Linked DNA regions of Homo sapiens. The protein of the gene in region 1 purifies or fractionates together with the protein of each later gene. This does not show direct contact. Each region holds a gene or a part of one and is shown in the gene's direction. Other genes may lie near its edges.

Evidence for each region.
Region 2: the proteins of ARGLU1 (region 1) and ACIN1 purify together in Homo sapiens (affinity purification with mass spectrometry; one large-scale study listed by BioGRID and IntAct). This does not show direct contact.
Region 3: the proteins of ARGLU1 (region 1) and CLK3 purify together in Homo sapiens (affinity purification with mass spectrometry; one large-scale study listed by BioGRID and IntAct). This does not show direct contact.
Region 4: the proteins of ARGLU1 (region 1) and MYB purify together in Homo sapiens (co-immunoprecipitation; one large-scale study listed by IntAct). This does not show direct contact.
Region 5: the proteins of ARGLU1 (region 1) and VANGL1 purify together in Homo sapiens (affinity purification with mass spectrometry; one large-scale study listed by BioGRID and IntAct). This does not show direct contact.
Region 6: the proteins of ARGLU1 (region 1) and VANGL2 purify together in Homo sapiens (affinity purification with mass spectrometry; one large-scale study listed by BioGRID and IntAct). This does not show direct contact.
Region 7: the proteins of ARGLU1 (region 1) and NCBP3 purify together in Homo sapiens (co-immunoprecipitation; 2 studies listed by BioGRID and IntAct, with this or other methods). This does not show direct contact.

Annotation. Positions count from the first base shown.
Region 1 is NC_000013.11:106,544,138-106,547,637, reverse strand, and holds part of ARGLU1 (arginine and glutamate-rich protein 1), read left to right. Parts: intron 1-3,477; coding exon 3,478-3,500. UniProt on the Homo sapiens protein: Dual function regulator of gene expression; regulator of transcription and modulator of alternative splicing. General coactivator of nuclear receptor-induced gene expression, including genes activated by the glucocorticoid receptor NR3C1.
Region 2 is NC_000014.9:23,088,637-23,092,136, reverse strand, and holds part of ACIN1 (apoptotic chromatin condensation inducer in the nucleus), read left to right. Parts: intron 1-1,503; coding exon 1,504-1,615; intron 1,616-2,035; coding exon 2,036-2,155; intron 2,156-3,500.
Region 3 is NC_000015.10:74,618,836-74,622,335, forward strand, and holds part of CLK3 (dual specificity protein kinase CLK3), read left to right. Parts: intron 1-361; coding exon 362-513; intron 514-1,173; coding exon 1,174-1,390; intron 1,391-3,284; coding exon 3,285-3,381; intron 3,382-3,500. UniProt on the Homo sapiens protein: Dual specificity kinase acting on both serine/threonine and tyrosine-containing substrates. Phosphorylates serine- and arginine-rich (SR) proteins of the spliceosomal complex.
Region 4 is NC_000006.12:135,187,808-135,191,307, forward strand, and holds part of MYB (transcriptional activator Myb), read left to right. Parts: intron 1-26; coding exon 27-98; intron 99-1,983; coding exon 1,984-2,076; intron 2,077-2,319; coding exon 2,320-2,540; intron 2,541-3,500. UniProt on the Homo sapiens protein: Transcriptional activator; DNA-binding protein that specifically recognize the sequence 5'-YAAC[GT]G-3'. Plays an important role in the control of proliferation and differentiation of hematopoietic progenitor cells.
Region 5 is NC_000001.11:115,658,970-115,662,469, forward strand, and holds part of VANGL1 (vang-like protein 1), read left to right. Parts: intron 1-671; coding exon 672-804; intron 805-3,500.
Region 6 is NC_000001.11:160,417,564-160,421,063, forward strand, and holds part of VANGL2 (vang-like protein 2), read left to right. Parts: intron 1-1,438; coding exon 1,439-2,046; intron 2,047-2,381; coding exon of another isoform or gene 2,382-2,430; exon of another isoform or gene 2,431-2,835; intron 2,836-2,847; coding exon 2,848-2,984; intron 2,985-3,488; coding exon 3,489-3,500. UniProt on the Homo sapiens protein: Involved in the control of early morphogenesis and patterning of both axial midline structures and the development of neural plate. Plays a role in the regulation of planar cell polarity, particularly in the orientation of stereociliary bundles in the cochlea.
Region 7 is NC_000017.11:3,804,953-3,808,246, reverse strand, and holds part of NCBP3 (nuclear cap-binding protein subunit 3), read left to right. Parts: 3' UTR 1-3,294. UniProt on the Homo sapiens protein: Associates with NCBP1/CBP80 to form an alternative cap-binding complex (CBC) which plays a key role in mRNA export. NCBP3 serves as adapter protein linking the capped RNAs (m7GpppG-capped RNA) to NCBP1/CBP80.

The DNA of each region.
Region 1 (3,500 bases):
TAGCATGTACACAAGGAACTTTCTTTTTTTCATTTAACAGTGTAACTTGGAGATTTTTCCATTGCGGAACATAGGGGCCTCCTTTTTTCCTCTTACTTGTTTTTAATGGCTATACAATATTCTCCTTTATATATCTTCAGTAATTTATTTAGTGTACCCCATATTGGTGGATATTTGGGTTTTTTTCACATTCTTTTCTTTCTATAAACTGTGTTGTAATATGTAACCCTGTAAATATATCAGTTTCGCATGGGTGCAAAATTTGCACATTGCTGTACAAGTACATAATGTAAATTCCAGAAAATGTACTTGCTGGCATAAAGTATTACGAAGATGTAATTTTGATAGTGTGAGAGTGCTCTTTATATGATAGCATATGTGTGTTAGTCCATTTTTTGCTGCTCTAACAGGGTAATTTATAAAAATATTTGGCTCAGGGTTCTGGAAGCCGGGAAGCCTAAGAACATGGCACAGGCATCCCATGAGGTTTCCCCATGGTGGAAGGCATCACATGGCGAGCAAGCTAGACAGAGAGGGCCCTAGAGAGAGAGAAAAGTGGTGGCCAGACTCGTCTTTTTATCAGGAGCCCATTCCCATGGTAACCAACCCACATCCCACTCGGGTAATAACAGAATTAATCCATTCATGAGGATGAACCCCTCATGGCCTAATCACTGCTTAAATGCCCCACATCTTAATACTGTTAACAATGCCAGTTAATTCTAACAGCGACCTTTGGGGGACATACTGAAACCACAGCAGTGTGCTGTCACACTTTGAATTTCTGTCTTCTAGGGTAAAAAATGGTATATTTGTAATGTTCATTAGATTTCTCTTATGGATTAAGGTTGTGATGTTCTTTATGTACCCTCACTCTCCAGGGCTCTAGGATGCTTTCCTAGGGTTGAGTTAGAACCTTAGAAGAAAGTGAATCTGAGTATTTATATTGATAAAATGTTTCTTAGGCACACACACACATCCAAAGAACCCTTACTACATCTTGATTCAGTTGCACACACTAAGCTCTTACCCCAAATTTGTGATGATTTATTAAAACTGGATAAAGTGATTGGCATATGAATTCATTAATGATGACCGATAGCAGGCAGTTCTTTTTGTTGTAATATCAGTGAAAGCCTAAGGAAGAGAGTGGCTATTTGAAATAGATTCTGATGTACAGGTAGGATTTCCATAGAAGGAAAGAATGGCATGAGCAAAAGACGGGGGAACAAGATAGAAAGGAGAATTTAGAAGAGGAGTAGAAACAAAGCTGGAGCCAGGTTATAGAAAATCTTGTCTTAGAGAAACATTATACTTTAGGAAGTTAAGCTGTATGCCATGGACAGTGGATATCATTGGCAATTTGAGAACAAGAAAGAGTGAGCAGTGGTCAAGAAAGGTGAGTCTGGCAGTATCGTGTAGGATGGATTGAAGGACACACTGGAAACGGGCACCATTTTAGATGTACAAAAGATATGTGGCCCTAAACTGATGAAGCTGGCAAAAGAAATGAAAATAAACTCTAGGCAGAGAATATAAAACAAGAAGTAACAAACTTGACTGAAGAAGGAAGAGATGAAATAAAGCTATAGAATTTGAGTGGCGGAAGGGAAAGTGTAAAGGGCAGATTTATTTTAAGGATAAAGTGGAAGAATTTAAATCTTGAAACATGTTGAATTTTGAAGCAAGTCCTAGGTCTCCCAGGTGGATGTGTCCAGTAGCCAGGTCTAAATGTAGCATAGGAAAAAGGTTTTAGAGAGCTGTATCTTAAAGATACATTTTAGCTCTCTGTTGGATTTTCCACCATGCTCACCTGCCAGATTCTCTCACTGCTTGTAATTCTGATCTTTGTTATCTCCAACCTTACTTGACTGCGGTTGATTTGTTCCAACACCTATCTTTTAGTCTACGTCACATTGCTGTCTAAACTTCTTTGCGTTCTTCCCTTTTTGCTACTTAAGATAAAATCTCAACATTTTTTATTGCATACCGGAGTCCTGTTACCTTTTCCATCTTCCTCTGCCATAAATGCCTGTAAACCAGTCACTTTACACTTTATTTAAAAAATACATATATATCAATGGAGACAAAAGAAGTAATTAGTGTGTGGCATTAGAGAATGTATCAGAAGAGAGAACGTTTTTAAAAGACTTAAGTGAACAGAAGAATTTATTTGAATAAAGAGAAAAATCACTGAATTTGATAGATTTTGACCATACAGAAGAAAATTTTAGTAGAATAATGGAGATGGAATCAATGACCTAAAATTTGACTTTGAATGGGAATAGGTAGGCAGCTCAAAGGATGCAGCGAATGTTTTAAGATCACTGTCAGATAGAGGGGAAAAAGGATAAATCATGATAACTGATATTAAAAAGGGTTAGAGCAGGCTTTCTCAATTTTGGCACTGATTGGATCATTCTTTGTTGTGGGAGCTGTCTTCCATATTATAGGATGTGTAGCATTGTCCCAGTCTTCCACCCACTAGATGCCAGGAGCCATTCCCAGTTGTGGCAGCCAGAATCATCTCCATGCATTGCCTAATGTCCCCTTGGGGAAGGGATTAAAATTGTGCTTGGTTGAGAATTGAGAATTGAAGATGTGTGTATGGTATCTCTAGGAAGCATGAGAAGGGCCTGACTTTGGTAAAGAGGGGGAAATCTGTGGAAGAATGCGGGAAAGAAGTTGCTTGACATGGAAGGAGTTGAAGGCACTGCAGGAGTGGAATCAGTTATACCAGTGTCCTTTTGAAATTAGATAGCACTTTATAGTTAGTCAGGTCAGAAGGTTTTGTAATATTTTTCTTCAGGTAATTGGGTCTGTCGTGTTTCTTGGTTGTCTACTGATACTATAATATAGTCCCTTTTTTTTCAGCATGATTTGACCACACAAAAAGCCCCAGTGGAGATTTTTTCCTATGTTTCTGTTTTTTTGTGTGTGTGTATGCCCTTCAACTATAAATATGGCAATTGGTAGATAACCTGCTCTTTGAGTAAATCTGTACCTCGGTTTATAATTAACAATCTATTAATCTGGTACAATGAAGTTAGAGATAAAAATAGGTATAGAACAAAATCTGTCATCTCAACATGTGATTTGTGGAAATTAATTTCCACTTCCAAAATGTGTAAATGCTTTTCCATAATTTGTTCATTTATTTTCATTGAAAATGAAAGACAGAAAATGTAGATGTAATTAATAAAGGGTTCTCTTTTAATTTTCTTAATTCTTTTTTCTCTACCAAACTATGTGACCTTCGTCAGATTTTATGACACATGCCATTGTGTGTAAGTTGTCACCTCATAACTAAAATATTTTGAAGGCATGTAATTCATAGGAAGTCCTTGTTTTTACCCCCTTTTTTGCATTTGCATTAAAAATTTTTTTGTAGATACATAATAGATAACACCTGTTGCAGGGGTACATATGATAATTTTTAATACATTTCTATAATTAATTTTTACTTTTAACTTTCAGGCCGAAGAACAGTTGAGAATTGT
Region 2 (3,500 bases), on another chromosome or scaffold:
AAGGGCAACTTGGGAATCTGTATTACAAAAAAAAAAAAATAGGAAAAGGCATAAGCTCCTGTTACCAAGGATTTCCTTTCACCCAGACAAAATGGAGTTATAACTTTGTCTAAATGCTGAATGGATATCCCTTTTCTTAGTCTCTTGATTTCATACTTTTAAATACTATACTTGAATTTTGGAGTTGTTTGATAAAATGTTTCCTGGATATGAGGCCGGGCATTGTGGCTCACGCCTGTAATGCTAGCACTTTGGGAGGCCAAGGCGGGTAGATCACCTGAGGTCAGGAGTTTGAGACCAGCCTGGCCAACATGGCAAAACCCCGTCTATACTAAAAATGCAAAAATGAGCTGGTTGTGGTGGCACATGTCTGTAATCCCAGCTACTCAGGAGACTGAGGCAGGAGAATGTCTTGAACCCAGGAGGCGGAGGTTGCAGCAAGCCAAGATCGCGCCATTGCTCTCCAGCCTGGATGACAGTGATAGTCCGTCTCAAAAAAAAAAAAAAAAATGTTTCCTGGATAGGTAACGGTTGATCTTTTGGAGGAACTGGCTTTTTTTTTTTTTTTTCTTGAGATGGAGTCTTGCTCTTTAACCCAGGCTGGAGTGCAGTGGCACGATCTCAGTTCACTGCACCCACCACCTCCTGAGTAGCCAGGATGACAGACTCACACCACAATATGCCCACCTTTTTGTATTTTTGGTAGAGACGGGTTTTGCCATGTTGCTGAGACTGATCTTGAACTCCTGAGCTCAAGCAGTCTTCCCACTTCAGCCTCCCAAAGTACTGGGATTACAGACGTGAGCCCCCATGTTTCAGTCTTGATACTACCAAAAGGAAATTTTAGATTACCCTTTAGATAATGTTCCACGTAATCTAGGAATTTAGCCTAAAAGATATAATTACAGGAATTTTAATTTAAGGTTATTTGTGGCTGGGCACGGTGGCTCACACTTGTAATCCCAGCACTTTGGGAGGCTGAGGCGGGTGGATCACTTGAGGTCAGGAGTTTGAGACCCGTCTGACCAACATAGTGAAACCCCGTCTCTACTAAAAATACAAAAATCAGCCGAGTGTGGTGGTGCACACCTGTAATCCCAGCTACTCAGGAGGCTGAGGCAGGAGAATCATTTGAAGCCAGGAGGCAGAGGTTGCAGTGAGGGAAGATCACGCCACTGCACTCCAGCCTGGGCAACAGAGTGAAACTCTGTCTCAAAAAATAAAAATAAAGAATAGTAATTTGTATACCAGTATCACTCTTTGGGAACTGAATATTTAAATCAAAAACTTATGTGCAGCTCTTCTTTTTGCCCTTTTTTTGTGTGTGACTCAAGGCTATTCTGTTCTTCAATATAGAACTAACTTAGAAAAAAGCCTTCCAACATTTTAGTTATCTTTCTTGGGCGCAACTATAAGGAGTGGACCTTTGCTCCATGGAATGTTCTTCTTTGCATTCTCCTGGTTTGTTTTCCTAGACCCTCTGTTTTCATTTCCTCTACACAGATTGGTGAGGAAATGAGCCAGAACAGTTTCATAAAACAGTATCTGGAAAAGCAGCAGGAGCTACTTAGGCAGCGTCTGGAACGTGAAGCTCGAGAAGCTGCAGAACTTGAAGGTAAGCCCAGATTGTCACTTTTAACAAGGAGTTCGTCATTCTTATCCCTGTCACCAAGTAGATAGGCCTGTCTAACTAGACAATTTCAGAAATAAGTGAGGCTGAGACTGCTACTTACTTGCTTTCATAGCCCATGAAGCCAAGTGGTTTACTATTTACTTTTGTCAGGGAAGAGGACACTTAATTTGACTGTCTTGTTAGAAGAGGATTCCTGCCAACAGGAAGAGTTATAAGTAAATTAAGCTACCATTTAGATGAAGTAGAGCTGAATCCCAGGGAGTTTTTTCTTTTTATACGGTGCTCTTTTTGGTATGTATCTCTGTATCTGTGACTTTGCCTGACCTCCTTCACTCCTCTACATATTCCTACATGCTGAGTCCTTCACTCCCTCCCTGCCCCGACCCGATCTGTACTTTGCAGAAGCTTCAGCTGAGTCGGAGGACGAGATGATCCATCCTGAGGGAGTGGCTTCCCTGCTGCCTCCTGACTTTCAGAGCAGCCTGGAGAGACCAGAGCTGGAGCTCAGCAGACATTCGCCCAGTACGTATCTCCCTCCCCACTGCGCTGTTTTGTCAATCCTGCGTAGTTGGTGGGGGGAGGTAGTTACACCTCCTTTCATGCTAAGCCTCCATGAAAGTCCCAGGGAAATTCTGTGACATTGATATTTGACATCTGTTTCTCATGGAAAGTATACCCTTTTTGAAGTCTGCTTTCACCTATATATTGTGTTACCTTCTCAGTGTTTTACGAAGCAGTGTGATTTTTCTTCTCATCTGTACCTCTTCAACTCTTCTACCTCTGAATTTGGCAACAGTCAGCTCTTTTTCATCTCTTCACCAGTTGTGTATATTACGTGTTAACACATTCAGTCACCCTCTGGAGTTGGGTATCTGCTGTGGTTTAATCAACAAATTTTTATTGTGTACTTGTTGTATACCAGGCACATGCTAGGCACGAGGAATATAGTAAAGAAAGAAACAAGTCTCAGCCCCAAGAAACTTAGTCTAGTGAGGACATGGACATTAGTTACAGTTGTTTTGGCTACTGTGCAAGGCAACGCAGAGTATTATGTGAGCATATTATAGTAGGGAGCTCTAACCTAGTATATGGGATTGGTTCAGGCAAGATTAATTAATTTCTTCACATTATAGAAAATATTAAGCACCCAGACTGGGTGTGGTCGCTCACGCCTCTAATCCCAGCACTTTGGGAGGCTGAGGCAGGAGGATCACCTGAGGTCAGGAGTTCCAGACCAGCCTGGAAAAACCGTGAAAAAGCCATGGCAAAACCCTGTCTCTACTAAAAATATAAAAATTAGCTGGGTATGGTGGCAGGCACCTGTAATCCCAGTGACTCGGGAGGCTAAGGCAGGAGAATCGCTTGAACCCGGGAGGCAGAGGTTGCAGTGAGCCAAGATTGCACCATTGCACTTCAGCCTGGACAATAGAGCGAGACTGTGTCTCAAAAAATACATAAAATCATAATAGGCACCCAATTTTGCATAATATCTCAAGCAAAAGTCTATAAATATAGCCTTTGTCTTTTGGGAACTACCTGTCTAAGTCAGTATACTTTGAGGAAAATATGTGCAGGTTGAGCATGCCTAATCCAAAGACCCAAAACTTTTTGAGTATTCACATGACACTCAAAGGAAATGCTCATCAGAGCATTTCAGATTTTGGGTTTTCAGATTAGGGATGCTGAATCAGAAAGTATAATGCAAATATTCAAAAATCCAAAATCTAAAACACTTGTGATCCCAAGCATTTTGGAAAAGGGATACTTAATATGTATATAAGACATGTGGATTGTTAGTACATATGTTAAACCAATGTGTAACTTAACAAGTATTTTGAATAATTAGTGTTGAGGGGGATGCGGAATC
Region 3 (3,500 bases), on another chromosome or scaffold:
GGAGGCTCCCCTTTCTCCTGCCTTTGATCTCCCTGTGGTAGTGTTCACCGTCCCCACCCAGGGTTACTGCCTCAGCCCCTGGCCCTGGCTCACCCAGTTCCCTGAGCACCCAGGCCACCAGGCTAGTGATGCTCTGCTGGGAGCTGTTTGTTTGTTCACTGGCAGAGAAAGTTGTTTCCTATTGTCTGCTGTTTGACCAGTGTGACCTCAGAGTTCTTCTTCACTTCATAAACCTCTGGGAGGGGCCGCCTTCAAACAGAACAATGGGCCTCTTCAGGAGCAACCGGGAAGCCCCAGCAGCCCCATGGCTGGAGGTGGCTGGCTGTGTGTTTAGCAGGGCTCTCTGTTCCTCGTGGCCTAGATGCATCACTGTAAGCGATACCGCTCCCCTGAACCAGACCCGTACCTGAGCTACCGATGGAAGAGGAGGAGGTCCTACAGTCGGGAACATGAAGGGAGACTGCGATACCCGTCCCGAAGGGAGCCTCCCCCACGAAGATCTCGGTCCAGAAGGTGAGAGGGAACTAGATAGGAGGGAAAGACTCCTTCTGTCAGCTGGGCTCAGCTGTGGCAGCTCCAGACTCCTTGAGATGACTCCATCCCTGCCCAGCTGTCCCTGGATCCCTGCCCTGTCCTCTTTGGGCTCCTCCACTAACCTCACCTGCATGCCTTGGCCTCAGCAGTAGCTACCATCCTTGCCGCCCACTCTTTCTCTGTCTTGGAGTGCCTTTTCTTCTCCCCACACATTCCCCCATTTTCTAGGCCAGCATCTTTCCGCTTAACCTCCTAAGCCTTCCTTGGTGAGGATTAGGAACATAACCTCACCCCTGGAAAGTTTGCTCCCTGGGCCTATCTTAGCTCCCAGGTCAAACTTAGAGTTGCAGCAGGCCACAGGGAACTCTGGAAGGGTATAGAACCCTTGGAGGCACTCTACCATACTCCCCTTCCCCTGTACCCCTCCTCCTACAGCTGGAGGATGCTGTCGTTGGACAGGGCTCTGGAGGGCGGGCTTAGTACCTTTGCACCCTCCCCTCTCTGCCCACTTCCCACCAGTGTGGATGCTTTTAGCACAGGCTGTCCCCCTTTAGCCCTTTACAGTGGCCTTACCACAGGTCTCTTGCTTGCTAACAGCAAGGACCCAGCTGACCAGCGTCCCCATCCCCCTTTTGGCAGCCATGACCGCCTGCCCTACCAGAGGAGGTACCGGGAGCGCCGTGACAGCGATACATACCGGTGTGAAGAGCGGAGCCCATCCTTTGGAGAGGACTACTATGGACCTTCACGTTCTCGTCATCGTCGGCGATCGCGGGAGAGGGGGCCATACCGGACCCGCAAGCATGCCCACCACTGCCACAAACGCCGCACCAGGTCTTGTAGCAGCGCCTCCTCGGTGAGTGGTAGCCAGAGTGTGCTGGCTGGGGCTTAAAGGCCTCATCTCTTCCTAGCCTTCTCTCAGGCTGGCTGGTCCGGGTGAGTACTGCCAGCCCTGTGCACGTGCACTGGTGTGCGTGCATGTGTGTGTGTATGTGTTGTCTGGTCCAGGTGTAGGGCTGATCACAGGGTCCTGGCCTCTGTGTCTTCTGGCTCTTTCCAGTGGCAACTGTAGGAACTCTGGCTCCGATGCTGGCTGGCCCCTGGCCTGTCTATGTCTACACAGTGCTCCAGACAAAGGCCACGTGGTGCAAGTGGCTGGGGACACTTCTTAGGACACTTCTTAGGGATCCTAGTAGAGTGGCTGGTATGGTGGTCTGCAGCTATATGGCCTGGTCCTTCCCACCCAGAGACTGCCTCCTCGTGTAACTGAGTGCTCTGATGTGGACTGCACCCACCTCTGCGTCTCATCTGCACACCCCTTCCCAAAGGCCCCCAGTCTGGAGTGCCTCACAGGACCGGAGGATTTGCCTGTCAGCCAGCTCAGACTGGGAACTTCCCTTCTGATCTCCAGCCAGGCCCTCTCCAGCCGAGCCTCTTTACGAGGGGCAGTCGCGGTGAGGAGGGGCAGGTGCCTGTGTGATGGGGCATGTGAAGAAATGGCAGAAAGGCTGCCGCCCCAGGCCTCGTCCAGTTGCAGGCCACATGCCCAGAGCAGGGCCTGGCCAGTATTCCTAGCATGGAGGGTTGTAAGGTCTCTGGAGCCCACATTGCGCTCAGTCCCCTGGGGAAGCAAAGCCAGTTGTGTATTTCCGAGGTTACGTGCGGTCTTCTCTTCTCCCCCATCCCTCTTCCCTGCCTCCCTCCTGCCGGCCTTGAGGCCCCTGAGGAGCAGTGGAGAGGCCAGGTGTCTTCTCTGCCCAGCGCTTTCTGTGACTTCTTTGAGTGGCTACAGGTTGAGGGTTGACTGTGCGGGCGATTGCAGCGTGGCCCTTTCACCTCTTTGCACACTGCCACATGCTGCCACAGGATGGCAGTGCAGGTCTGGCTCTGTTTCTCTGTTTGGTGCCCTCTATCGATCGTCGTGAGGCTTGGGATGGGCCTAGATTGTGAGCAGCATGGGTGCCAAGGCCAGGGCAGGAGCTGGCATGGGGCCTGTGTGGGCCATTGTGGTAGGAAGCCTGGCAGTCGACTGGCCCAGAGGATCCCAGGCTGCTTTCCTTCTTGAGGCTGGTGGCAGGAGGGCTGCTGACGGAAGGCTGTTTCTGGTAGTGATGGTGAAATCTGGCCAAGGATGCCGTCTGGAGGCAGGTAGCAGCTTGGCTGTGAGTGGCAGCTGTCAGGCATGTGCAAGTCTGCGTGGGCGAACAGAGGCAGGCAAGGACAGGCTGGGCATTCTGCAGCTGAAGCCGGAGCAGCCGCTGACCAGTCTGGATGGTTGGACCCAGGCGGGGCCAGCTGCCTTCTTGCGCCGCCGTTCTCACTGCATCTTCCGCTCTGGCCCAAAGCCACATGGGAGGGTCTGGGAGGGAGAGACTCGGAGGAGGAGGAGGAGGGAGTCGGGGCGATGGCTCTCCTCACAGCGTGGCCCTCAGCAGCAGAGGCAGGTCATCTTCCTGAGCGTTTGTGGCGCTCCTCTTAAAGATAATGTCCGAGTTTTCTTTACATACCTGTAGCTGTTTTTACTTTTCTGTTTTTGAAGTCAGTTTGTGTCTTGACGTGTCCCTTGCAATATCCCTATCGTTATATATGCTGTGTGCCTTATGAAATGCTGGGATCTGGAAAATCCAACCAACCAACCCACCGGCTCCTCACCGTCTCCACCTCTGCCTTTGACTGACACCTCAATCTGTCAATCGGAACCGCCTACCATGCGATTGGTCGGATGGCGTTTCGGGGGGCGGTGCATGCAGAGAAGCCAACAGAGCAGTAAGCGCAGCAGCCGGAGTGTGGAAGATGACAAGGAGGGTCACCTGGTGTGCCGGATCGGCGATTGGCTCCAAGAGCGATGTACAGCCACCTTTCGTAAAACTTTACCTCTCTACTTTCTACCCCCCTTGTTAGACGAGACCTCTCCTGCCTGGAGGGGCCTCTAGTGCGCGTGGTGCCTTAGCGGGGCCACCAGTAAT
Region 4 (3,500 bases), on another chromosome or scaffold:
CCTAGGATTACCTTTAAATGTCTTAGGATGAAAAACTGAAGAAGCTGGTGGAACAGAATGGAACAGATGACTGGAAAGTTATTGCCAATTATCTCCCGGTAAGTTAGTAAGTTTTTCTTATAACGAAAGGAAAGCTTCTCCCAAAGATTTCTATAAAATATTCTAGGAGGAGTTATTAAGATAGTGTATAATTTACTCACATTTAAGAAGTGGGAGAAATGCCCTACCCATAACTTATATTTTATATTATAATGCATATAATTAAATTATTAGAATTTAGATTATTAGAATCGATTATTATAATTTAGATTATCAAATTTTAAAAACAGTTGCTTCTTGTTTTATCTTTTCATTTATAGGATAATTAGTATTTTGATGATTTGTTACATGGTAGTTGATTAAACTTGATATTTCCTCCAAGTCAGTTTTTCCTGAATTCCCTATTTTTGTCAATAGCAATACTTTTGGCACCAAGGTTTAAAATTCTGAAGACCTTTCTTGACTTATCACATTCCCCCAACCCCTACATCTAAGCAGTTACTAAGGACCCTGGAATTCCTTTATAGTCAGTCCCGTCCTTTTCATTCTCATGGCTGTGCTGAAGGTTGGGCTCCTGCCCTCTCATTTGGACTATCATATAACTTCCTAACTGGCTTCCCCACTTGTAGTTTTCCATTTTTCTTTCTTTTTTTTTTTTTTGTTTTTTGTTTTTTGTTTTTTGAGATGGAATCTAGCTTTGTTGCCCAGGCTGGAGTGCAGTGGCACGATCTCAGCTCACTGCAACCTCCGCCTCCCAGGTTCAAGCGATTCTCGTGCCTCAGCCCCCTTAGTAGATGGGATCACAGGTGCCCGCCACCATGCCTGGCTAATTTTTGTATTTTTAGTAGAGACAAGGTTTCACCATATTGATCAGGCTGGTCCCAAACTCCTGACCTCAAGTGATCTGCCCACCTCAGCCTCCCGAAGTGCTAGGATTGCAGGCATGAGCCACCGTGCCCAGCCAGTCTTCTACTTTTCCATTCATCCCAAACACCATTGGCAGGTGGAACTTCCTAAAATGCAGCTGTACCTTATCTTTTCAAAACCAACCACAGTGACAGAATCTCACAAATTAAGTAAACTGCCTTGACTTGGCACACAGAGGCCCTCCTCTATTGCCCCAACTTACAGCTCCAGTTCTGTTTCCTGCTTCCTCTCTCTAAGCAGGTTTGCTTGAATTTATTTCTGCTTTACCTCCTCTGGGCTTTTGCTCCTGGTCTTCCCACCTCCTAGAATATTCTCCCTTTATGTCACCAATTAAAGTTCTGTCCATCCTTCAAAGTCCTTATGAAGAGCTCTTCAAGACTCCTCCCAAGGAAACCATTTCTCCTCCTAAGAAGATGCTTCTCTCCTCACTTCAGTATCATTTTGCTTTGGTCTTTTCTTCCAAGTGAATCAAATTCAGCATCTGTGATAGTCAGTCATCTACTTGTCTTTTCCTTCTTATAAGTTTACAAACTCCTGTAACATAGGACCTATCTTTTATGCATCTTTTTTCTTTCTGCAATATAAATACTTTGGTCCTGGATTGAAGCACATCTCTTGTCTGAATGGGAAGCAAACTTTAGTCTTTTAGGGTGGTTTCCATGAAAGCCTGACAACATAGAATCTCTATCAAGCCTCAGGCTATGTAGATACTCTGCAAAAGTATCTGAGGTTAAGGTTAACTTGGCAGGCACATGTGTAGTATGATGGTCCTTTAGATCATGTGGCAGGAATGTTTCCCTCAGGAGGCAGAGTGTCTAATTTTAGATGCAACTTTGATATATTACTTGCATGTTCTGTAGCCTGTAAGTAATGAGGGATAGATGGGCTCTAAACATGCTCTAAAATGTTCTTAAATATTTTCACTGCATATGGTCTATGTGTGATTCCTATTACAACAAAAAATTCACGTGCTTATCACATCATATCTTTATGGTGGTGCATACTTTATTTGTCTAGAATCGAACAGATGTGCAGTGCCAGCACCGATGGCAGAAAGTACTAAACCCTGAGCTCATCAAGGGTCCTTGGACCAAAGAAGAAGATCAGAGAGTAAGTTCTTTCTTCATTGGTGTGTGACTCATAATTAAGAATATTCCCAAAATGCTAATATTTTCCTATTTGAGGAAGCAGGTAAAATGGGCAAACAGGAAGTAGAGGACTCTATTCCCATATTTCCAGTGAATGAAAGCAAATTTTGGAAATTTTCTAAAGATCTTGTAACACTGAAGAATGATTATACTGACTCATTACATAACTTTAAAACATAGGTTATTTTTGTGTGTTTATCTGAAGGTGATAGAGCTTGTACAGAAATACGGTCCGAAACGTTGGTCTGTTATTGCCAAGCACTTAAAGGGGAGAATTGGAAAACAATGTAGGGAGAGGTGGCATAACCACTTGAATCCAGAAGTTAAGAAAACCTCCTGGACAGAAGAGGAAGACAGAATTATTTACCAGGCACACAAGAGACTGGGGAACAGATGGGCAGAAATCGCAAAGCTACTGCCTGGACGGTAATAATATGTCAAAAAATATATTGATCGGGAAGAATGAGGGAGTGGGTATTGAACATTCTGCTTTAAATGTATGGTGAGTAAATTATATTTCATCAGTCGTAAGTGTTTTATTAGATAAACCAGCTACATAGCTTTTAGAGATTGAAGACATCTTAGAGTTTATTTGGTTGAGAACTTCCAGGATCCACCTGACAGTGAGCCCTGGGTGAAGACATTTAGCTTTCCCCAGCCTCAATTTCCCCATTTCCAAAATGAATCATACAGGGCCAGTGTTAGGATCAAGTAAAATGAATGTCAAAGGACTTGGTAAACTATAAAACTCTAAATGCATAGAAAGAAACTGAAGACAGTTTGTCTCTGGCAGTTCACGTAGCTGGTTAAGTTACTCAAAGGAACTCAGCTACCATTTTCCTGATAACCATCATTCATTTCTTTTATTTTTTTTAATTATTATTTTTTAGAGACAGAGGCTTGTTCTGTCACACATGAGTGACAGAGTGCAGTGGCATGATCATAGCTCAATACATCCTTGAACTCCTGGGCTCAAGGGATCCTCCCACCTCAGCTTCTTGAGTAGCTAGGACTACAGGTGCACCCCACTACACCCAGCTGATTTTAAAATATTTTTTGTAGAGATGGAATCCTGCTATGTTACCCAGGCTGGTATCAAACTCCTGGCCTCAAACAATCCTTTCACCTCCCAAAGTGCTGGGATTATAGGCATGGGCCACCATACCTGGCCACCAGTATTCATTTCATTATACCACTTTGCTTAATTTTTTACTTCATTGATTAAAGAAATAATGTATTTCTTGAATTCTCATACTACTTCCAGGTTTTTAAATAATGTCAGGGTAATAATGCTTTCTTTTTAATGAACAAGGCAAGAAAATGACCTCATTATGAGGGATAACTATGGAAGCTCATTTTGTCCCATTTTTCCCACTTAAGTAGTAT
Region 5 (3,500 bases), on another chromosome or scaffold:
CACATCCACCCACACACCCTCCACCCCTCTTGGTGTCTTTGGCCTTTTTTCCTAGCTTGTTTGTTTCTATGGGTGTCTTCAAGTTCAACTAGAACCTATGGGAATGACTTAGTTTTGAACCTGTAAGAATGAGAAGTAAACAATTCTTTGTACTGACTTTGAATTTCCTTTCTTCTGTTGTCCAAAGGTGAAGGGTGACAATGTGTCCCAGATTTTTTTGGATATTCTACAAAAAAATAGATATTTTTTTGTAGAAAAAAGCTTATTCTACAGTGTTGTCCCAATTTTAAAAGCCCTAGAAAACTGGTTAAGGCAAATTATAACCAAATCAAATCACTAATTATTACAATAAAGTGTAACTAGCTACAAAAATCCTAAAATTACAATTTTAGGCTTTGAGAAAATATCACTGATGATAGAGGAAGAGTGACAGTCTTTGTTTTGGGTCTTGGGATGGCAGAAAGAAAATATTTAGTAGGGAGTAAAGATCAGTGTACCCCTTGAAGTGTGGTGAAGATGGGTGGGTTTTGATGCTCTGTGTGTGTGTGTGTGTGTGTGTGTGTGTGTGTGTATGTAGAATTTCCCTAAATTCAAAATGATACTTACATTTTGATAAACCCAGAGAGTTAATTAACATGGCATAAATGTGCTAGCTCATTGTTGTTTTTCAGGGAAAGAACTAGAGAGAGACACAAGTCACCCCGGAATAAAGACGGCAGAGGGTCAGAAAAGTCTGTCACCATTCAACCTCCCACTGGAGAGCCCCTGTTGGGAAATGATTCTACTCGGACAGAGGAAGTTCAGGTAAGGATCAAAGGTGGTCTGTAAGCACACTGCCACTTGGCCAAGACTCCTGTCTGTAAATGTTTTCCTTAGGTTCTCTTGGATTTTTGTCTTTATTTTTCTAGCATGCTAATTAGTTTATCTATGTCCCATGGTCTCTTGTTGGTCTAAGGACAGCCTGTCCTGCCCTTTGGTAGCGTGGGGATTCTTCTGAAGTATGATTGGTTGGCCTGCTTTACATGGTGTGGAAAAGTAGCCAGCAAGGTTGACGACAGGGTTGGGAAGGGAAAAGCTGAAGTCTCCCACGACTCATTTCAAAATGGAACAGTATAAGGGGGAGAAGGAAACTCAGAAAACCTAAGAAGTTTAAAAAACATGGGGCAGCCCAGACTGACCATTACTACTAGAGCTATGCAGGAATTGAGAGGCCGCACGCTCAGATGCCTGGTAGAGAAACGTAAGTTAATTAAGGAGGCCCTGGGTCGAAAAGAGGGGGCAAAAATATATTAACCTAGCTTTGGGTTAACAGCAATCTGTGCAGTGCCTCAGTGTCAGTGCTGTAGTGTGGTGTGAAGGAGCCTATGGCTAACTGGAGAATGCATTTCCTCTGTAAAGGAAACAGCAGCTCCGCAGCTCCAGACACCTACTGTTGCTCAGGAATGCAGGGATTCATTGTTTGAGAAAAGCTGCAAATCAGGATTTTATGTGGAATCCTAACTTTACAGTATTTTTGAAATACTGATACTTTATTAATTTTTTTGAACCATTGAGTGGGTTCTTCTCCAGGTTCCAACTGTCTGGCAGCCCACCTGATTTAAATAAACATCTGAGCTATACACAGAAACATGTCTGCATACCCTCTGCACATCCTGAAGTATATATACACATGTCCAGCCTTGCCCCTCATAAACAAAGTGGTGTATGATACACAGCTGTAAAGATAGATATAGGACTATAGATAAGCATACATCTGTACATACCTGTGCATACACACAGGTAAGCATTTATAATCAAATAGGTGGACTGAAACTGGAATTCCTCAGAGTACACAAGGTGTTCTTGGGACACAAAACTACAATTGTGGGTTGAACGTGGGATTCATTGAGCAATGAGCAAATGCCTTTAGTGCTGCCTGCCTTGGCTCTGGGATGGCTGATGGTCGGATGGGGCCAGTCTTAGGATTGGATCACCCTGGAGTACTTGAAGGGGTCAGTTTCCTCCTGGATGTGGGTTCAGAGGTGCCAGTGGCCTACAGCAAAGGCTCTTCTTTCTCTGCATCTCCTCTGCACCTCGTAGCTGAGAACACTTTGAGAAGCTCTTGGTGTTGCCCCAGGATGATCTGGTGTGAAAAGCATTGAGATGGGTGTTTGGAGGCTGTATTTTTTAGTAGCTCTGTTACCTTGAGCAGTCACAGCCTTTGTAGGCCTCAATTTCTTTATTGAAAATCTAGGGGTTTTGATGAAAGCATCTTAGGTGCTTTTTCTTCTAAGAACCTGAAGCTTAACAGGATCCTTTGTGTATCTACATGTTTTAGGCATACATGTGCACCCCAGGAAATTCTCTCATGCCCTTTCTAGTCAATCTCTGCCCCACCCTCACCTCTCCAAGGCAACCACTGTGTTGATTTCTATCACTGTAGATCAATTTTGCCTGTTTTTGAATTTAGTATAATTAGAATCATATGGTCCATCTCCTGCCCCCACCCACCCGCCCTGCTTAGCATAATGATTTTGAGATTTATCCATGTTTTGGTATGTTTCAACAGCTTATTCTTTTTATTTTTGCTGAGTAGTATTCCATTGTATCAGTCTACCACAATTTGTTATCCATTCTCCTAGTGGATGGACATTTGGGTTTTTTTTGTTGTTGTTTGTTTGTTTTTTGAGGCAGAGTCTTGTTCTGTCGCCCAGGCTGGAGTGCAGCGGCATGATATCACCTCACTGCAGCCTCTACCTCCCGGGTTCAAGCGATTCTCCTGCCTCAGCCTCCCGAATAGCCGGGATTACAGGCACGCACCACCACGCCCAGCTAATTTTTGTATTTTCAGTAGAGATGGGCTTTCACCATGTTGGCCAGGCTGGTCTCGAACTCCTGACCTCAGGTGATTTGCCTGCCTTGGCCTCCCAAAGTGCTAGGATTACAGGCGTGAGCCACCGTGCCTGGCTGGATGTATATTTTTATTAATTTTTGGATAAAACCTGAGAGTGGAATTGCTGGGCCATATAGCTAAGTGTATATTTAGATTTATATGAAACCGCCAGAGTGGTTTTCCAGAGGCACTGTACCACGGTCCACTTCCACCAGCAGTGTTGGAGAGTCCTGGCTGCTTCTGGCCATCGTCTGAAATAGGAATTTCTCTCACTGTAGGTGATACTTCTGACTTTGCAAGTTGAAGGATTATTAGTTTATGGGATTGAGACCTTCACCACCACCGCTTCTTACCATAGCCCATACATTTCATAAATCATGGTTTTTTTGGTCATTACTAGATTCGGAGTTATTTGATGATGAGCGATGTCTGTCTTGCTGATTTAGCTACTAACTGAAACTAGCTTTTTCTAAGTTGGTGTCCTAATTTCACCCCCTTTGCCACTGCATCTGACTGTTTTCTTTCCGAGTGAAAGGATACATACAAATTTCAGAGGCAGAAACCTCTTTGGCCTCCTGTGTCTTTTCAGCGCCTTGCTCTTATTGCTTCATTATTGTTGCCAGTTGTT
Region 6 (3,500 bases), on another chromosome or scaffold:
CTTGAGTCTGCACAGTGTCCTTCACGCCTTCACCCCTTTACCCCTGGGGTCTTCTGTTCTTCTCTGTGCTGCTTTGATCAGGTTTACTCCTTCAGTGGCTCTCCATGCCTGGAGAACAGGTGCTTATTGCCCAGCCCAGCACTGCAGCGTGGCCTGCACAAGCCCTGCCTGGCTGCTGTCTGCCTTACCTTCCTGGTTGCACCTTGCTGTGCTTCTGCACAGGGATCCTCTGCTCTCATAGCCCTTGGGTGCCTCAGTTCATGCCATTCCTGCCCTGGAGGCTCCTCCTCTAGCTTCTGCCAAAATCATGGCATGCTGGAAGGAACTTAGATAGGACTTCCATAATTTTTTTTTTTTTTTTTTTTGAGATGGAGTTTCGCTCTTGTTGCCCAGGCTGGAGTGCAATGGCACGATCTCTGCTCACCACAACCTCCTCCTCCTGGGTTCAAGCGATTCTCCTGCATCAGCCTCCCGAGTAGCTGGGATTACAGGCATGTGCCACCACACCCAGCTAATTTTTTGTGTGTGTGTGTTTTTAGTAGAGATGGGATTTCTCCATGTTGGTCAGGCTGGTCTCGAACTCCCGACCTCAGGCGATCTGCCCACCTCGGCCTCCCAAAGTGCTGGGATTACAGGCGTGAGCCACCGTGCCCAGCAGGACTTCCAGAATTAATGTTAATGTTTGAGTGATTCATGTGGATCTTGTTAAAATGCAGATTTGGTTCAGTAAACATGCGGTGGGCCTGAGGTTCCGCCTTTCTAACAAGCTCCCAGGTGATGTCCACACCGCTGGTCCACAGATCACATTTTAAGTAGCCAGCCAGCCCTTAGAAATCATTTAGTTCAGTGATTCTCAATCTTGGATGACCATTACAATCATCTGGGGAGTTTTTTGTTTTTTTTTTTTAAAGGTTCACAAGCAGATTGCACTCTCCAATAATTAGCATTATTTTCCAACTTCCCTAAGTGTTCTAATGTGTGCATCTGGGATTGAGAACATCTTCCTTGGAGCCCCCTTCCCCCAAGGATCAGCTCAGGTCCCACGGTTTCTGGAAGCCTGCCTGCTTTGCTTGGCGAGTTTGCCCTTGGATCCCAGTCACTGCCTGAGCAGCATCTTCAGCATTTGTCCTGTGCTGTCTGCTCTGAGGGTCATTGCCGCATGTGTGGTTTTTTCCTCTCTCACTGACCAGTGTCCAGCTCCCCGAGGGCTCGGGTCTTGGATTTGGCCATCTGCAGAGGCCAGACTTTGACACACATTGGAGCTCAGTAAATACTTTGATGGTTGCGTATTTGTTGATTACCCTCTCTTCTTTCTGCCTTCTCCTTTCCCATGTGTTCTTCTCTGTCTCCTGTCCCCTCACCCTTTCTCCTGTTTCCCTCCTCTTCCTCTTCTTATCCTTTCCTCCTTATTGTGTGGCTGGCCCCCTTCTGCCTGTAGGATGACAACTGGGGGGAAACGACGACAGTAGTAACGGGCACCTCAGAGCACAGCATCTCCCATGATGACCTCACACGCATCGCCAAGGACATGGAGGACAGTGTCCCTCTGGACTGCTCCCGTCACCTGGGTGTGGCAGCGGGGGCCACCCTGGCACTGCTGTCTTTCCTCACGCCTCTGGCCTTCCTGCTGCTGCCCCCACTGCTGTGGCGGGAGGAGCTGGAGCCTTGCGGGACGGCCTGCGAGGGCCTCTTCATCTCTGTCGCCTTCAAGCTGCTCATCCTGCTACTGGGCAGCTGGGCTCTGTTCTTCCGCCGGCCCAAGGCCTCGCTGCCCCGCGTCTTTGTGCTGCGTGCCCTGCTTATGGTGCTGGTTTTCCTGCTCGTGGTCTCCTACTGGCTCTTCTATGGTGTGCGCATCCTGGATGCTCGGGAGCGCAGCTACCAGGGCGTGGTGCAGTTCGCCGTGTCGCTGGTGGACGCCCTTCTTTTCGTGCACTACCTGGCCGTGGTCCTGCTGGAGCTGCGCCAGCTCCAGCCTCAGTTCACGCTCAAGGTCGTGCGCTCCACCGACGGCGCCAGCCGCTTCTACAACGTTGGCCATCTCAGGTACTAGCCCACGGCTGGAGAAGGGTTGGGAGGGAAAGGGCATGGGAGGATGTGGAGTGACTGCTAGGGTGGGAGGGTATGATGGTGGGCTGGAGGTGATGGGCTTGGAGGGTTGTGTGGGAGGGAGTTGAGTACTTTGCACCAAGTAGGTTTTCACCAATGTTTGCTGCTTGATAGGCAGGTTCATGTACACGGTCTTGGGGCAAGATCAGTTGGGAGTTATGAGATGGGAATGAATAGGCATTTAGAGGTAGGGAATATTAGAGGGGGATGGACCAAAGGGAAGAAATATGGGGGGGTGCACAAACAGGGGCTTTTTGGAATCCCTTTTCTAGTCCTTTCTGGGAGGCGCAGCTTCTTGTGAGCACTCAGAGTGGCCTGTGAAGTGACCTGGCCAGAGGAGGGATCCCCAGAGAAAGAGATAAGGAGGAGAGTTCTTCAGCTCCCAGTAAACAAGCTACCCCTCGAGGCCACACAGAATATCAGTGGCACGTCCTGGGTCCTGTAGAGGATCTTGGGGGAACGCTGAATGGGGATGAGGTGATCTTTGGCTGGGGACCCAGGCCCAATGCCCTTTCTCTGCTAGGCTTTGGCATGGTGGGGAGGGACTGGCAGGCCCAGCCCTGGGAAAGGCTTGGGAGCCTGGTAAGTAGACCTCAGGCCCGGAGTCAGGCTTCTCGGAAGCAGCTTGTCCCTGTCCTGTGTCCTCTCCTGCCCTGCCAACCTGCCCTAATGTGTCCCTTTCCCCTGTGCCCCTTGGTCTGTCCCTTCTCCCACCCCCTCCTGCCGTCTCCCCCACAGCATCCAGCGCGTGGCAGTGTGGATCCTGGAGAAGTATTACCATGACTTCCCTGTCTACAACCCTGCCCTCCTCAACCTGCCCAAGTCCGTCCTGGCCAAGAAAGTGTCTGGCTTCAAGGTGTATTCCCTCGGAGAGGGTGAGCAGCCCTGCTCCTCTGCCCTTCCCTGTCTCTTCCCAAGCAGGACTCCAAGTTCCCGCCTCTCTTTTACCCTTTGTCCCTTGCTTTTTCCTTTCCTTAGCCCATGTTCTAGCCGCTTCTATTCAGTCATTTCCCTTGACTCCAGGTGGCTGATCTTAGCTGCTCATCCTACTTGCTGTCCCTTTATGCTATGGCATGTCCCCTGATCTGGCTCCTCTGTGTCTCTCATCAGCCCTGGTCTAAGCCCTTTGGCTCTCGGAGCTGCAGAACCCCCTGCACTGGGGAGGAACAACTGCAGGACTCTTGCGCTTCCAGTGCCTTCCTTGTTGCTTTCCTATGGCCTCTCCCAGAGGTGGCCAGGAGGGTTGGGATTAGGAGGTATTGCTGGGTGGTGGGAACAGCTTCTTCTGGACATGTCAGGCTGCTGTCTCCAGAGCTCCTGGAGTGGGAAGAGAGGCCACACTCTGATGTGACCATCTCCTCTATCCTGTTCCTGTGCAGAAAACAGCACCA
Region 7 (3,294 bases), on another chromosome or scaffold:
TGGTTGAGTACCAGGTGAAGTGATTGGCCTGCAGTTAGGGCTGTGTTGTGCAAAAATCACTTGTTTTGGGGTGTTAGAACCACATTTAGGCGAGAAGATCACTTTTGGGGAGCTTGGGAACTGAGGCAGGCCGCAGGTGCAGCAGAGGCATGAGCTTGCCCGGGCCCGCCCTCTTGTCTATGCTCATGGAGTGAAGGAGGGGCCAGCGGAATGGCCCAAACAACTGATTTGTTTTTCTTTTTTTAAATCTTTTTCAGACAAATACCATTGTGTTTAAGCGAAATGTGTGTATAATGCCAAATCACTGTACCCCACAACCCTGCACACCTCTACACTGGACTGTAATTTCTTGTTCCTAGTTTGTCTTGCTAGACTGTAAGCTCCGTGAGAGCAGGGACCGTGTCTGCTTGTTGAGTGGGCTTTCCCCTGTGCCTGCCAGCATGCCTGGCATCTAGCAGGTCTTCTGTAAAGATGGGATGAGTTTGTAAACCCTCCAGCCTCAGGAGTGGCTCCATCCTCTGAGGCTCTGGGGCCCTCTGGCAGGCTAGTCATTTTTCTGCCATGTACGTACAATGCTTTATTTTCATGTTGTATTTTCCTTTCTAGCCAGTAAGCAAGCTCCTAATGAGCAAGTTTCTTTGTGGTGTTATCTCTGTATCCTTTCATCAGGCCAGCCCAGAGTAAGTAGTGCTTCGAAAGTGTTTGGTAAATGAATGAATTATGGTAACCCAGCCCAGTTCTGGCATCACTGTCTGCAGGTTAGTCTAATTCCAGATGAAAGCCCCAGATTCGAAAAAGGGAAGATTATTCAGAAGTGCATATGGTTGTATAAGAAAAAAAAATCTCATTAAATAGACCTGAGTAAACTTCAAATTTTGATGATCTGGCCATGTCGGAGCTGAAGCTTACCAGCTCTCTAAAGCATTTGCTAGGGAATCATGCAGATGGTCCAAAATATTTTTTAGAAAAGCATTCATCTGTCCCGGGATAGAAGTAGAGGAAGCTGGTAGGCAGGCGCTAGACCCTAAAGAAGGACTGCTGAGCCAGTTCTTAAGCCTGTGGTCCTGTCGGTGAGGAAAGTGAGAGCAGTCCAGAGCAGGTGAAAAGAGCAGAGCTCATTCCTCCAGTGGCTCTTTTGCCTAAAGCAGCATTCCTCAAACTTCTCACTCGAAGCATTAAGTTACGGTGAGATGCTAACACACGCTTTAGACTTAAGTCAAAATTTACTGTGAAGCCACAGCAAACCATGGCTTCACAGATGAATTAGTTGCTACACAAATAAGTTCGATACATAAGTACAGTAATTGCTTTTAAACCTTATAATAAGCAGTAAATTAGAAGTTAAACCATGTTTTTCTTTTACGAACTGAAAGAAGAGAATGCTTTTGATACTGAGAATCGCACACTGTGTCCAGGAAGATTGTTCTTGCATAACCAGACCCACAATAAATATCTACAACTTTTCTTACATGTTTATAAAATAAATCTTAGAAGAAAAATATTGTAGCTTTTTTTTTTTTTTTTTTTTCAATGAAGCTCTATGAACATTTCACAGAACTTTGTTCCTGGGAGTAGTTAGGGAAATGCTGCTTCAAAAAGCCAATTTTAAGTAGTTGTGAGGCATCCGAGTGGAATTTGGCTGCACTATCCATAAAACTTGAGAGTATAGGCGGTATTTCACCTACCAAGGTCAGTACCCTGCCTCAGGATTCTTACTGTTCATTTGAGCAATTCCGGGGCCCTCTCTGGATGACCAGGTTCGTAAATAGTTGAGACTTTGTGTTATCTCAAATTGTCACCATCACCTCTGGGCCAATATAGGTTAGTGAGGTCGAGAGGCCCACACCATTGACAGAAGAGAATTCTCAGGCCGGGCTTGGTGGCTCACGCCTGTAATCCCAGCACTTTGGGAGGCCGAGGCGGGTGGATCACCTGAGGTCAGGAGTTCAAGAGCAGCCTGGCCAACATGTTGGAACCCCGTCTCTACTAGAAATACAAAAATTAGCTGGGCGTGGTGGTGGGTACCTGTAGTCCCAGCTACTTGGGAGGCTGAGACAGGAGAATTACTTGAACCCGGGAGGCAGAGGTTGCAGTGAGGTGAGATCGCGCCACTGCGCTCCAGCCTGGGCGACAGAGCGAGACTCCGTCTCAAAAAAAAAAGAAAGGATTCTCACCTTCCTGTCCCTTCCTAGGAGTTTTGTGGTAGTGTTCGATCCTGTGATGTGGCCATCTTCTCCTCAGGGCCTGTGAGAGGCAGGCAGCATCTTTAGCTGAGGTAGAATGCCTGTTGGGGAAAGTCAAATAGGATGGTGGCTGGGGCCGGGGCTCTGGGGACTCCTTCTGCCCCACATACTCAATTGGAAAGACTGAGCAAGTCCCCTCACCTCCCTGGGCCTCAGCTTCCCTGTCTGTCAAATGGAGGGCTCAACTGGGGTGAGCTCCAGTTTCCTTCTAGTGCTAACGCGTGTTCAAGGATCCTTGCTCTCCTTTCCGGGGAGCATCAGGGGTGTGGGCTAGATAGCAGGAAAGAAGTAGGGGTTTGTAAACAAGAGATCCAAGCCCCTGGACCCTTGGTCCCAGCACCCAGTGCAGCCCTCGCCCTCCCAGCCCCTTCCTTAGAAAGGACAAGAAAATCCACTCCTTGTTCTCTCCCTGTCCCATCACCCCCGCAGTCCCCCACAGATCTGAGGCCGGAGGATGCCAACATGGTGAGCACCCTCTTGCTGTCTTATTCACGTAGGCTTTTCTTGGTGCCTGCACATGGCTCTTGTAAGGCCACCAATCTTGCTGGATTATGACCTCATCTAACCTTAATTACTTCCTAAAAGCCATATGTCCAAGAAGAGCCACATTGGGGGTTAGGGCTTCAACATATGAATTTGGAGGACATTTACAGTTCAGTCCACAGCACCTGGTCATGTGGAGATCCCAGTCTGCATTTGTGGGATGAAATCTCTGCTTTTTTAAAGTTTACACACCACCTAGCTGGGCACGTGGCTCACACCTGTAGTCTCAGCACTTTGGGAGGCCGAGGCGGGGATCACCTGATGTCAGGAGTTCGAGACCAGCCTGGCCAACATGGTGAAACCCCGTCTCTACTAAAAATACAAAAATTAGCCGGGTGTGGTGGCGGGCACCTGTAGTCCCAGCTACTCGGGAGGCTGAGGCAGGAGAATCGCTTGAACCCAGGAGGCAGAGGTTGCAGTAAGCTGAGATTGTGCCACTGCACTCCAGTCTGGATGAAAGAGCAAGACTCCATCTCAAAAACAAAAATAAAAAAAGTCTACACACCAA